Homo sapiens: one gene and its partners. The protein of the gene in region 1 purifies or fractionates together with the protein of each later gene. This does not show direct contact. Each region holds a gene or a part of one and is shown on either strand. Other genes may lie near its edges.

Region 1 (2,678 bases):
GAAGATCTTATGCACAGGACACACTTGGCATATGCTTTACGCAGTTGCTCCGGACAGCTTGCTCGCGCCACTGAGCTTTTCCTGAGGTTTGTGTTCGCCTCTCAAGGAGAGCTTTGATCCTCAGTGGTACGGATGACTTGATGGGCTCCATGCGGAGCCTGGCCTGCATCCCCCACCACACAGCTCACTCACCCACCAGCTCTAGACTGCAGACGCACAAGGCCTCTGCTCAGAAGCCAGAACACAGCACCTGTGACTCTGTTACTTGAATTTTGTGCTTTTTGATTGGAGTCCTTTGTTGAGTACTTTGTTAATTGAACACTGCCTTTCTCTGGAGAAGGCCCCAGTGCTTTCTAGCTCCCTCTCACTCCTGCCCTTTCTAGCTCTCTCTCACCCAGCGGGTCAGGGATAGCACCTCTTGTCTCCACTATGCAGATGGGAACTCTGAGCCACACAGAGGTGAAGTAGCACTTCAGTTACTCAAGGTCAGTACTCTCGGTATTCCAAGTGACTTAGCCACATTTCCTTCAGTGCAATAGGTGGGTTTAATGCTCTTTGTACACAGATGTATTGGCTACATAGCGTGTAAAAACCAAGACTGGGAAGCCATTCACTAAAATCCCTCCTGACTCAAAGGACCTGTCTCCAGATGGTACAGAGTCCCTTGATGGCATTTTACAAAACCAGCTCTGACTTCCTTATCCTGAACAGGGAGTTTATTTTAAAAATGCTTCATGCACCTGTTATTTGGCTGAACAGAAGGCTCACTCCTCAATCCCCTTCTCCTCGCCATCATTAGAGGAATAGACTCAGCCTTCATGTTTGTCTCTGGAAGACGATTGGCGATACTTGCAGGAATATTGTTGATGCAGCCAATATTAATTTGAGCTAATGGATTGTTAATTCTGAAACGAAAACTGTAACTGTAGAGCAGGCTTTTACTATGAGAGGTACTACTTTTTATAATAGAGAATGTGGTTGTGTGGGCTTTTTTTGAACAGAAAACACAACAATGACCTATACCGTGAGAAAAGCCATTTTATCTTCTTCGTGGTATTTTTACCCCCAAAGGAACTGAAGATGGAAAATATGACTAATAAGTTATTGCAGTTTTGGTCTTGAATTCTGTGCCATCTGAAGTTAGCATCCAGCTTCTTAAAAAGCAGCCACGCCTACAGCCTGTTTTTTGGGAAGGCTGTAGGTGGAGAGATGGGCTTATTTTGCATACCACCCTCAGGGCCCAGAGACCCACTGCATTTTCCAAAGTTAAGCAAATGACACCATTTTCTTCCATCAGCTAAACTTTACAGATAATAGTGTTTCCACCTCATATCCTTTTCTTTGCCCCTTCTCAAATGAGTCAGAATAGTCATGTTCCCCTTGAGGGATGTCTGACTTGAATGGAGAATTGTTCTTTCCTCTCTTGAATCAGCTCACTAGCTCCCTGATGGTCTGGGTTCAAGGAAATGGTTAATGAGGTAGAGGCCACTTATACAAGTCCTTGGGATTGTACCATTGCTGTCCACAAACTTAGTATCAACAACACATGCTGTGCCCTGTGAACACTCTCCTCTCACCTATTTCCAGGGTTGGTCTTCCTGAGAAGGGGATGGATGAGGTAACACACAGTTTGGGATACGTATCTGTTGAATGAATGAATAAGTGAAAGGATAATAGTCCTCTGAGGTAAAAATGGCCTTGTCAGAATTTTGAAAATCCAACAGATTCCTATTAAAGCACTCTGTGTACCAATAACATGCATGCATTGTACCAAGTAATCACAATGTGAATTGGTCAATTTATGAGCCTTGCCTACTTTAGAAAATAAAGAAACCTGCAGTAGCCTCTACCACACAGCATGTACAAAGACCAGTATGGACTTGCTATCTTCCCTATGTATTGGACACTGTATGCAAACACCAGAAGTACTTAACAAGTAGTGGTTTCTTGATTTTTAGATATGTCTGTAGCCTCTTAGCCCTTTTGCCGGGAATCAACTCATTCTGATGCCTCTGCACCTCAGTTCCTCTTACAAAAGCCTCCAGATGATCTAAATCTAGTTAGCAATGTCAGCCTGTGGACTGCAGCTGTTTGGGACATTGTATTCCTTTGTTTGTCTCTTGTTGTTCTGAAGGATTGTATTGATCACAAAGCTATATGCATAAAGATTCTCATTGTTGTAACTGTTCTGCCATTTTCTGAGTGCAAGCATGGAACACTGTTGTGACAGTCCCTTCTCCCTTCTTCCTTCTTCCTTCACCCCCAACCCCAGACCCCCCTTGGTCACATGAACCAGGGAAACAGCCCAATAAGCTCTATCTCCCCCAGTCTAATCGCTGGGTTGCAGGGTGGCCTGTGACCTGCCCAGCATTTGCAGACTCGCTGGTTCCTGAATATGAGTAAGCACAGAGTTTACCTAGAGAGTTTACCTAAAATTAACCTTTAGATCTACTATTTATTTTTGTCTTAATAAAATGAACAATAAATATAGTTTAGCTGCATGGCATTAAGGATTCTGTATGAATAGATGTATAGTTGCTGCCATCTCCCCATATAAAAACTCTCTTTACATCGTTTCTGAGCCACTTTCTTTGCTGTCTGCAGCATTTAAAATATATTATTTTTCCTAATTAGAAAAGTCACAGGTTTTAGAAAATTGGGAAAACAAAAAGAGCATA
Region 2 (4,137 bases), on another chromosome or scaffold:
AACACAGAACTCAATAAAGCAGTCTGGGTAGAGTTATAGAATTAGAGTTGTGACCATATATATGGTAATTAAAGCCAAGTGAGTGAAAAAGATTATTTGGGGGAGGGAGTATATGTATCCTAGCCCTGAGAATGTCTGACTTTCAGAGGTCAGATAGCAGAAGAGTGGCCTACAAAGGTCACTGAGGAGAGGGCAAAGGAGTAGGAGGAAAAGCAAAAGAGTAAAATGTCATAGATGCCATAGAAAGTTTCAAGGACGAGGAAATGGTTAACGGTGTTAAATGTAGGGGAGAAGTCAAGCAAAATAAGGACCAAAAATACCTTACTTATTTATGGATTTATTGACACTGAGGGTCATTGTTTGTGTATCTCATTGAGAAGTTTCAGTGGGGGAAGGAAGCCAGACTGCTGAGAGCTAAGAAATGAATGAGAAGTAAGGGAATAAAAATTGCAATTTCACCTGTGAAGTACATTTTCAATACATTTGCCCATAAAGAGGACCTGAAGAGGGACCTCCTGTGTAGGGAGGTTCTTTTTTTAAGATGGTAGATACTTGAGCATGTTTAATTGCTGATGTGAAATGAGGGGGAGAGGGATGGGAGAGGCAGGGAGAGGAATCTGCAATTACTGGGTAGGTATAAACATTTTCAAGTCTATTGATACATATTGCTCACGTGCTTTCTAAAAGGGTTTTTAACCAACATATGCTGCTATCAGCAATTAAGACAGCTTGTTTGGTGGCTACTTTGTCATCATTAAGTGTTATTAAAAAATAAAAAATATCTTTGCCAAAGAATCTCATTATTGTTCTAATTTGCTTTTCTTTGATTACTAGTGAGTTGGATATTTTAACCAGTTGTGTCCTTGAGTGTGTATGTATGAATTTAGTCTACGCTTTTGCCCAAAACGTTTCTATTTTAGACAGACATTTATTTGCCATAAAAGGCCACAAGTCAAAGGATCAGAATGGTATTATATTTTATTTACTCAAATTAGATAGTTCATACTCTTTTATCTTCTTAGAAGTGTGAGACAATTTGACAACTTTTGACTCAGCTGAACGAAAGAGACAGGTGATTTCACCGTCTAAGAGAGTGACCAACAGATGGAAGTAAGTGGGTGAGGAGGCACGTCTAGTGTTAGACCCCTATCCTCAGTCCCCAGGCTCCCATTCCTAACCTGGAAGGACATTCCTCTTGTGTCTCAAGGCTTTGGGTCCCAGAGCTCCCTTTTGGGCTGAGTGGCCCCCTGCTAAGGAGCCCGGGGCGCTGTGCGGCCCCTTTAAGAGTCCAGCTCCTCCCCGCTCCAGGGAAAGTTGCAGCTTTTTCCGCCTCCCGGGAGGGTGAGAAGGGCCGGCTGCCGGAGCTGGGTTGCGATCTTCCCGGAGCCGGAGACCCTCCCTTGAAACCGGCACTGGGACTTCTCGATCTCTGGAGGCACCTGTTGCAAGTGACAGGTAGGTCAACAGCCAGCGGCCGGCCCCTCGCCCTCGGTCCGGTGCTCCTTCTGGACCCCCAGCTCCTTTTCGCTGCTGAAGCGCCCCCACCCCCATCTCGGGGTCGTGCGTCTTCCCTACCCGCTCTCTGGTCCCCCAATTTTTCCTTCTCCCTAGCTGACCGCGTCTCCCCTCTCCCCGTCCGCCTCTCCCGACCGCATCCCCAGGCTTGGACTCCCGTCTGCTTGGGCGGTCCCTCCCGGCCACTTTTCTTTCTCCAGGGCTTCTTCTGGCCCCTTCCCTGACCCACCCAGCACTAATGCGGTCTGTGCCCCTCTGGGAGCCGCCTCCCCTCTCCTCTTCGGCTCCCCTCGCGGGGAGTGCCCGGGCTTTTTCCCGCCAGCCCGAGCTGGTGCCCCTCCCGAGAGCTGGCCCTGGGGGCGGGGGCGGGGCCGAGCTCCTAGCGGGAACTGCGCCCTCCAAGGCGTCCAGTCACCTTTTCGTGGGTTCCTCTCACAGCGCTCGGCCGTCGAGCGGGGTCGCTAACCCGCACTCTCTTCGGACCTACGACATCGCGGCTTCTCTGGCGTTGGCCAGTCAGCCACAGGTAAAGGCTGGAGGCTGGTTGGCTGGAGTCCTGCCTCAGTGGGCTCCCTCTGCGCTTGGGGCTGGGGACCTGGCTGTGTGCTGTGGAGCTGCTTTATATTGCCGCTCTTCAAGCAGGCTGTGAGAGATCTGGTACTGGAGGAGGGTCCCCGAGATCTCAGAAGGGGCACAGAATGCTTCTGTCTCCTGTGTTGGTTTGTAATGGGGCAGAAAAAGGTGTTCCTCCAACCCTTAACATTGAATGAGGTGGGATTTGGGGTGGTGAAATCATTTGGTTAGAATTCTGGTGGCTTGAAAAGTGGTGACTTTCTAATCAAGCTTTTCTTCCCCCAGTACCCTGCTTCTTCAGGATTAGAGGACGTAAAATTCCAGAGTACTGTGCTTGGCAGGGTTGACCCTAGACCTTGTATATTTGTGGCAAAAATGAGTCTTCTGTACATCCTGGACCTCCTATATTTAACTGGCTTATTTTCTGCTCTTTAAGCTCCCCACCCCCACCTCTCATAAATCTATTAATATTGAGGTATTAATGACTTAAGACTTTTGTCGCTGTGGGAACAATGTTTAATGCAGAGACGTGGCCTTGATGAAGTTTTCTGCGTTTTTGGTTGTTTGGTTTTTAGCACCCTAGTAGAAAAGCACCACCAACTTGGCTTGTGAGGCCCTTTTTGGGCAGAGGATGAACATTTCTGGTAACACAATTTCAGGTGTCTCACTCTTGGTCAGAGCAGTGAAATGGAGCTGGAGGCCTGTTCTGGGGTAATTGATCTGTGAGTATATGTAGCATTCTGGCTCTCTGAGCTTGTTAGGCTCTGGTTGTTAGGCTCCATTGAGCTGGACACTGTGATAAGTTCTTTACATAAAAATGCAATCCTCACAATAACTCTATACAGTAGGTGCTACAGTTATAACCATATTATGATGAAAAAGAGACTGAGAAGTTAAGTGCCTTGCCCTCAAAATCTCGGAGGCAGAGCTTGTGTTCCTATCCTGTCACACCACCTCTGTTGTCTTAGATGTTGGGAACACTGAATAGCTCATGGATGAGGACTAAGTGATTAAAAAATTGTCTTCCAAGCCCAAGTATATGTTTTTCTCCTTGCTTCCACCTTAGATGCACTGCCGAGACTATGGACTACTTACCTTACTGATGTCTTACCCACTTCATTTCCAACATGGGCCAGTTGCCACGTTACCACTATAAGTACACATCCCTGAGTGTAATTAGATGAATGAAATCTCCCGGGTTTTCAGCTCTGTGGTAATTGTCCTGAAGTTAGGGGAGGGTAACCCTGGATTCTAGGGATGTGTGCCTGACTCAACTTCTTCCTCTCCTGCTGGCTAGGGGAGAAATGAGGGAGTGGTAAGTGATATGGATTTCCTGACAGCCATACCAGAGAGCCTGAGGGTGATCGTGTGCTAGTTTTGTCATGGGATGGATGGAGTACCATAGACAAGGATAGGAAGAAAATGTCCTCCCTATTCCCATCTCTGGGACTTTGCTCAAACTGTTCCTTTTTTTCTTCCTAAAAAGCTAACTTTCCTCCCTCATTCCCCCTCCCCTGACATTAATTCCTATCCATCCCTCAAGATTGAGTTCTAAAGTCACCTCCTTTGGAACGGCCTTACTGAACACATACTTCTTCCCCCAAGCAGAATTGCCAGTTATCCTGTGTCCTAAAGCACTTTGTTTACACCTCAGTAAAGCCCTTAACACTGCTTAGTTGTTTTTCCACCTGGAAGGCTGTAAGTTCTCTAAGGGCAAGGTCTGGATCTCGGAGCTCCCTTTGTCTTAAATATAAGATGTTGGCAAATATTTGTGCCAGTAACCGGACATACCATGCCATTCCTTCAAGGGGCTGAGGTGTAGTGATGGTGGGGTTGAGGTACAGAAGACACCTTCCTGAGGCACTTGAAATACCACAGCTAGGAATTTGCCCTGACCACCCTATTTAAACGTGTAATCCCTTCCCTGAACATTCCATATGCCCTTTCCCTACCTTATTACATTGTTCTTGCTTATTGTCTGCCCTCCCACTCCCTCACCCACCATAACATAAACACCCTGTGGGCAGGGATTGCTGTCTGTTGTATTCA
Region 3 (3,164 bases), on another chromosome or scaffold:
TCAGCCCTCCATATCCACAGGTTCCATATCTGCAGATTCAGCCAACCACAGATTCAAAATTCAGTATTCACAGGATGCAGAACCTGTAGTTATGGAGGGACAACTTTTTCTATCTATAGGTTCTACAGGGCCGACAGCAGTACTTGCATATCCATGGATCTGGGTATCTGTGGGAATTCCTGGAACCAATCCCCCATGGATACTGAGGGATGACTGTATGTGACAAGTCACTTCTTTCTCACTGCCTTCAAGACTCCCTCTTTGTCTTAGGGTTTTGACAATTTAGTATAATGTGTTTCACTGTGAATCTCTTTGCCTTTATCCTGCTTGGAGTTCATTGAACTTTTTGGATGATTACATACATGTCTTTCATCAGATTTGGGAAGTTTCTGGCATTATTTCTTCAAATATTTTGTTGCCCCCTTCTTGCTCTTTTCCTTCTGGTACTCCTGTAATGTGTATGTTGGTATACTTGATGGTGTCCAATAGGTCTGTTAGGCTCTGTTCATTTTTACCTCATTATTTTTATTTTCTTCTCAGACTGGATCATTTCAATTGCTTTATCTTCAAATTCACTGATTTTCTTCTGCCTGCTCAAGTCTGCGGTTAAACTTCTCTAGTGAATTTTTCATTTCAGTTTTTGTACTTTTCCTAAAATTTCTGGCTTCAAATAGGAAGCAGGGAGGGGCTCTGTGCCTTTAAATTTTCCAGTTGATGCCACTAGTGGAAGCCATTGCATCCCAAGGAATGTCTAAACCAAGACAGGCATCTGCTGGGACCCACCAGATCAAAGGGCACAACCCCAAATTTTTGGAGGACAAGGTCCCACTGCCTACCCTGGCCAGCTAGCTACTCCAGGAATGTGAGCTGCTATCCCCATAGCTTCAGGGGAGCTGAAGAGAGGGGGATAGTAGCTGGGTCACACACACAGTTCCCTTAGCAAAGATCAGCAGCCTCTCCCTTTACCAATCAGTCTCCCGATTGTTATAAATGTCCAATCAAGTTCCAGAGTTATGAGATAGTTGACAATCACTGTTTCTACTTCAAGGTAGCTTCAGTGGAGGGACCAATCCCTAGGGCTTCCTACTCTGCCATTTTATGTGATGTACTCTTCTCCCATTCTACAGGTAAAGAAACTGAGGCATAAAAAATTCAGGAATTTGCCCAGGGTGGTGCCAGGATTAGAGCTCAGCTGTCTACCTAAAAAAAAAAACCCATGCCCTTGGCCACTTCACTATAGTGCCTCTCCATATGGTTTGCACCTGAGATGTATTTTATATTCTCCCTTAGACAATTTTTTAAAGAATGCTAGAATTGGGAGAGTGCTTACAGCCCTCTGATCTCCAAGAAGCCTAAGTCAGGGCTTCTCTCCCCACTAAATACCTCAAGGGTGAGGAGATCACATTCTCCTAGTCCTGAAGTTCTACCTAATTGTCGTAGAAATCTTTCCATGATATATGCCAACTCACTTTTGTGAATTCACTTAAACTGGCTATTTTTAGGGGTACTCAAACTTTACATGGTCTTATTCTTCCCCATAGGCACAACTACAAGAGCGGAATGACCCTCAGCAACTGCTATTAGATGCCAAGCACATGTTTCCTGTTTTGTTTCCATTTAATCCATCTTCTCTAACCATGGACTCAATCCACATCCCAGCGTGTCTCAATCTGGAATTCCTCAATGAAGTCTGAAGATGCATGTTTCCAGCATTAGTTTGATTCCCAATGTGAGCAAGAAGGAAGTATATACAGTAAAGTAAATTCAAGGATCTGTTAAATCTGGTAAAAGTAGATCAAATCAGAGATTGACAGCCTGTGGAGGGTGCTGAACTATACAGAATTAGACACAACTATGTCATTATTTTTTGTACCTACTGCTCAGAATAAAAACACTTGAAATATGGAAGATTTTAAGTTTGATTTCAGTCCAACACATATACATAATTTATAGACACCAAGCAGTCCCCATAGACATATAAAAGGTGTCAATTCTATAAAACGAAGCTGCCTAGTTTTGATCTTTGCATAGAACTAGAGAATGTCCAAATTAAAATACCAAATATATATAAGTCACATAAATTGCCTTCAAAGGGCTTTAACAAATAATGGTACTAATAACCATGATAATGGCATATACTGACATTTCCCAAAGTTTGCAAACCATAGGTGTGGTTGAGTTTGTGGTGAGATGTTTTAAGAACAAAAATATGGGGATGAGACTTCTGAGAAATATTCCCAAAATATTTTTTAATGGCTGATTATACACAGACAGTGGTGTAACTGACCTCCAGACCAGACATTTTGAGTACTGGTTTCTGAAGCAAAATTAGAAGTGCCAGTCCTCAGTGTGCTCAAACGCTTTTGTGTTATCTTGATTTAATGGAAGAGATTATTAAAATGCTGCTATCCCAAACTCCAAGTGAGAAAGATGGAAAAATATTTTGTTTCTGATGCTAGTCCATACACTTTCCAAGTCCCACAAAACTTTCACAAAAATGTATATAAGCTAAATATTAGAAACGGATAACAAACTTGTTTTATTTATAGATGTAAAAACCAAACAAGTCAATATGAAAGCTTTTAATCTCTTAATACCATTAAGCTTCCAGTAAGAGCATCACATAATGCTCTACTGTTCCAGAAACCAAATAGTAAAACAAACTAAAGTTCGCACATCAGATCATCTGAAAAACCTTCAAAAATAATCAGTTCAGGGATATTATACAAAAGTTTGGGTTTTTTTTTTTTAAGAGAATAAAATGGCTTAGGTCAACTTTCCCTTTTCAGGTTATTTTCAACGTTTTTCAAATTTAGCACACAAAAAATTGTAAATATCTCTCCCACAAAATAAGGATTTTAAAAAAGTAATTCAGTAATATAACAGGCTTAGATGTTTGCTGCTCTTAGAATTTTTTTTAACTTGTTTTTGGTTTCTTCAAAAGCAAGCATTCAATTGGAAACCCATATTCTTTCCACACTTTTTTTTACTGTCTTTTCTGTATTTCTTGATAGCAGTATGCTGTTCCCATAAGAAAAAAATGGTATTTGCAAATCATGGAAGAACAGCCTCTGTATTACATTGAGAAAATAAGATTTATCCATGAATTGGAAGTAGAACAGCCTGCCTTCACCCTCTTTTACTCAACCACCCAACTTAAAAGG

What was found.
Region 2: the proteins of TBC1D30 (region 1) and SYTL4 purify together in Homo sapiens (affinity purification with western blotting, with the first as the bait; one study listed by BioGRID). This does not show direct contact.
Region 3: the proteins of TBC1D30 (region 1) and MYO5B purify together in Homo sapiens (affinity purification with western blotting, with the first as the bait; one study listed by BioGRID). This does not show direct contact.

The regions. Positions count from the first base shown.
Region 1 is NC_000012.12:64,876,451-64,879,128, forward strand, and holds part of TBC1D30 (TBC1 domain family member 30), read left to right. Parts: 3' UTR 1-2,678. UniProt on the Homo sapiens protein: May act as a GTPase-activating protein for Rab family protein(s).
Region 2 is NC_000023.11:100,729,322-100,733,458, reverse strand, and holds the start of SYTL4 (synaptotagmin-like protein 4), read left to right. Parts: upstream 1-1,337; 5' UTR 1,338-1,455; intron 1,456-1,924; exon of another isoform or gene 1,925-1,953; 5' UTR 1,954-2,041; intron 2,042-4,137. UniProt on the Homo sapiens protein: Modulates exocytosis of dense-core granules and secretion of hormones in the pancreas and the pituitary. Interacts with vesicles containing negatively charged phospholipids in a Ca(2+)-independent manner.
Region 3 is NC_000018.10:49,825,001-49,828,164, reverse strand, and holds part of MYO5B (unconventional myosin-Vb), read left to right. Parts: intron 1-1,541; coding exon 1,542-1,694; 3' UTR 1,695-3,164. UniProt on the Homo sapiens protein: May be involved in vesicular trafficking via its association with the CART complex. The CART complex is necessary for efficient transferrin receptor recycling but not for EGFR degradation.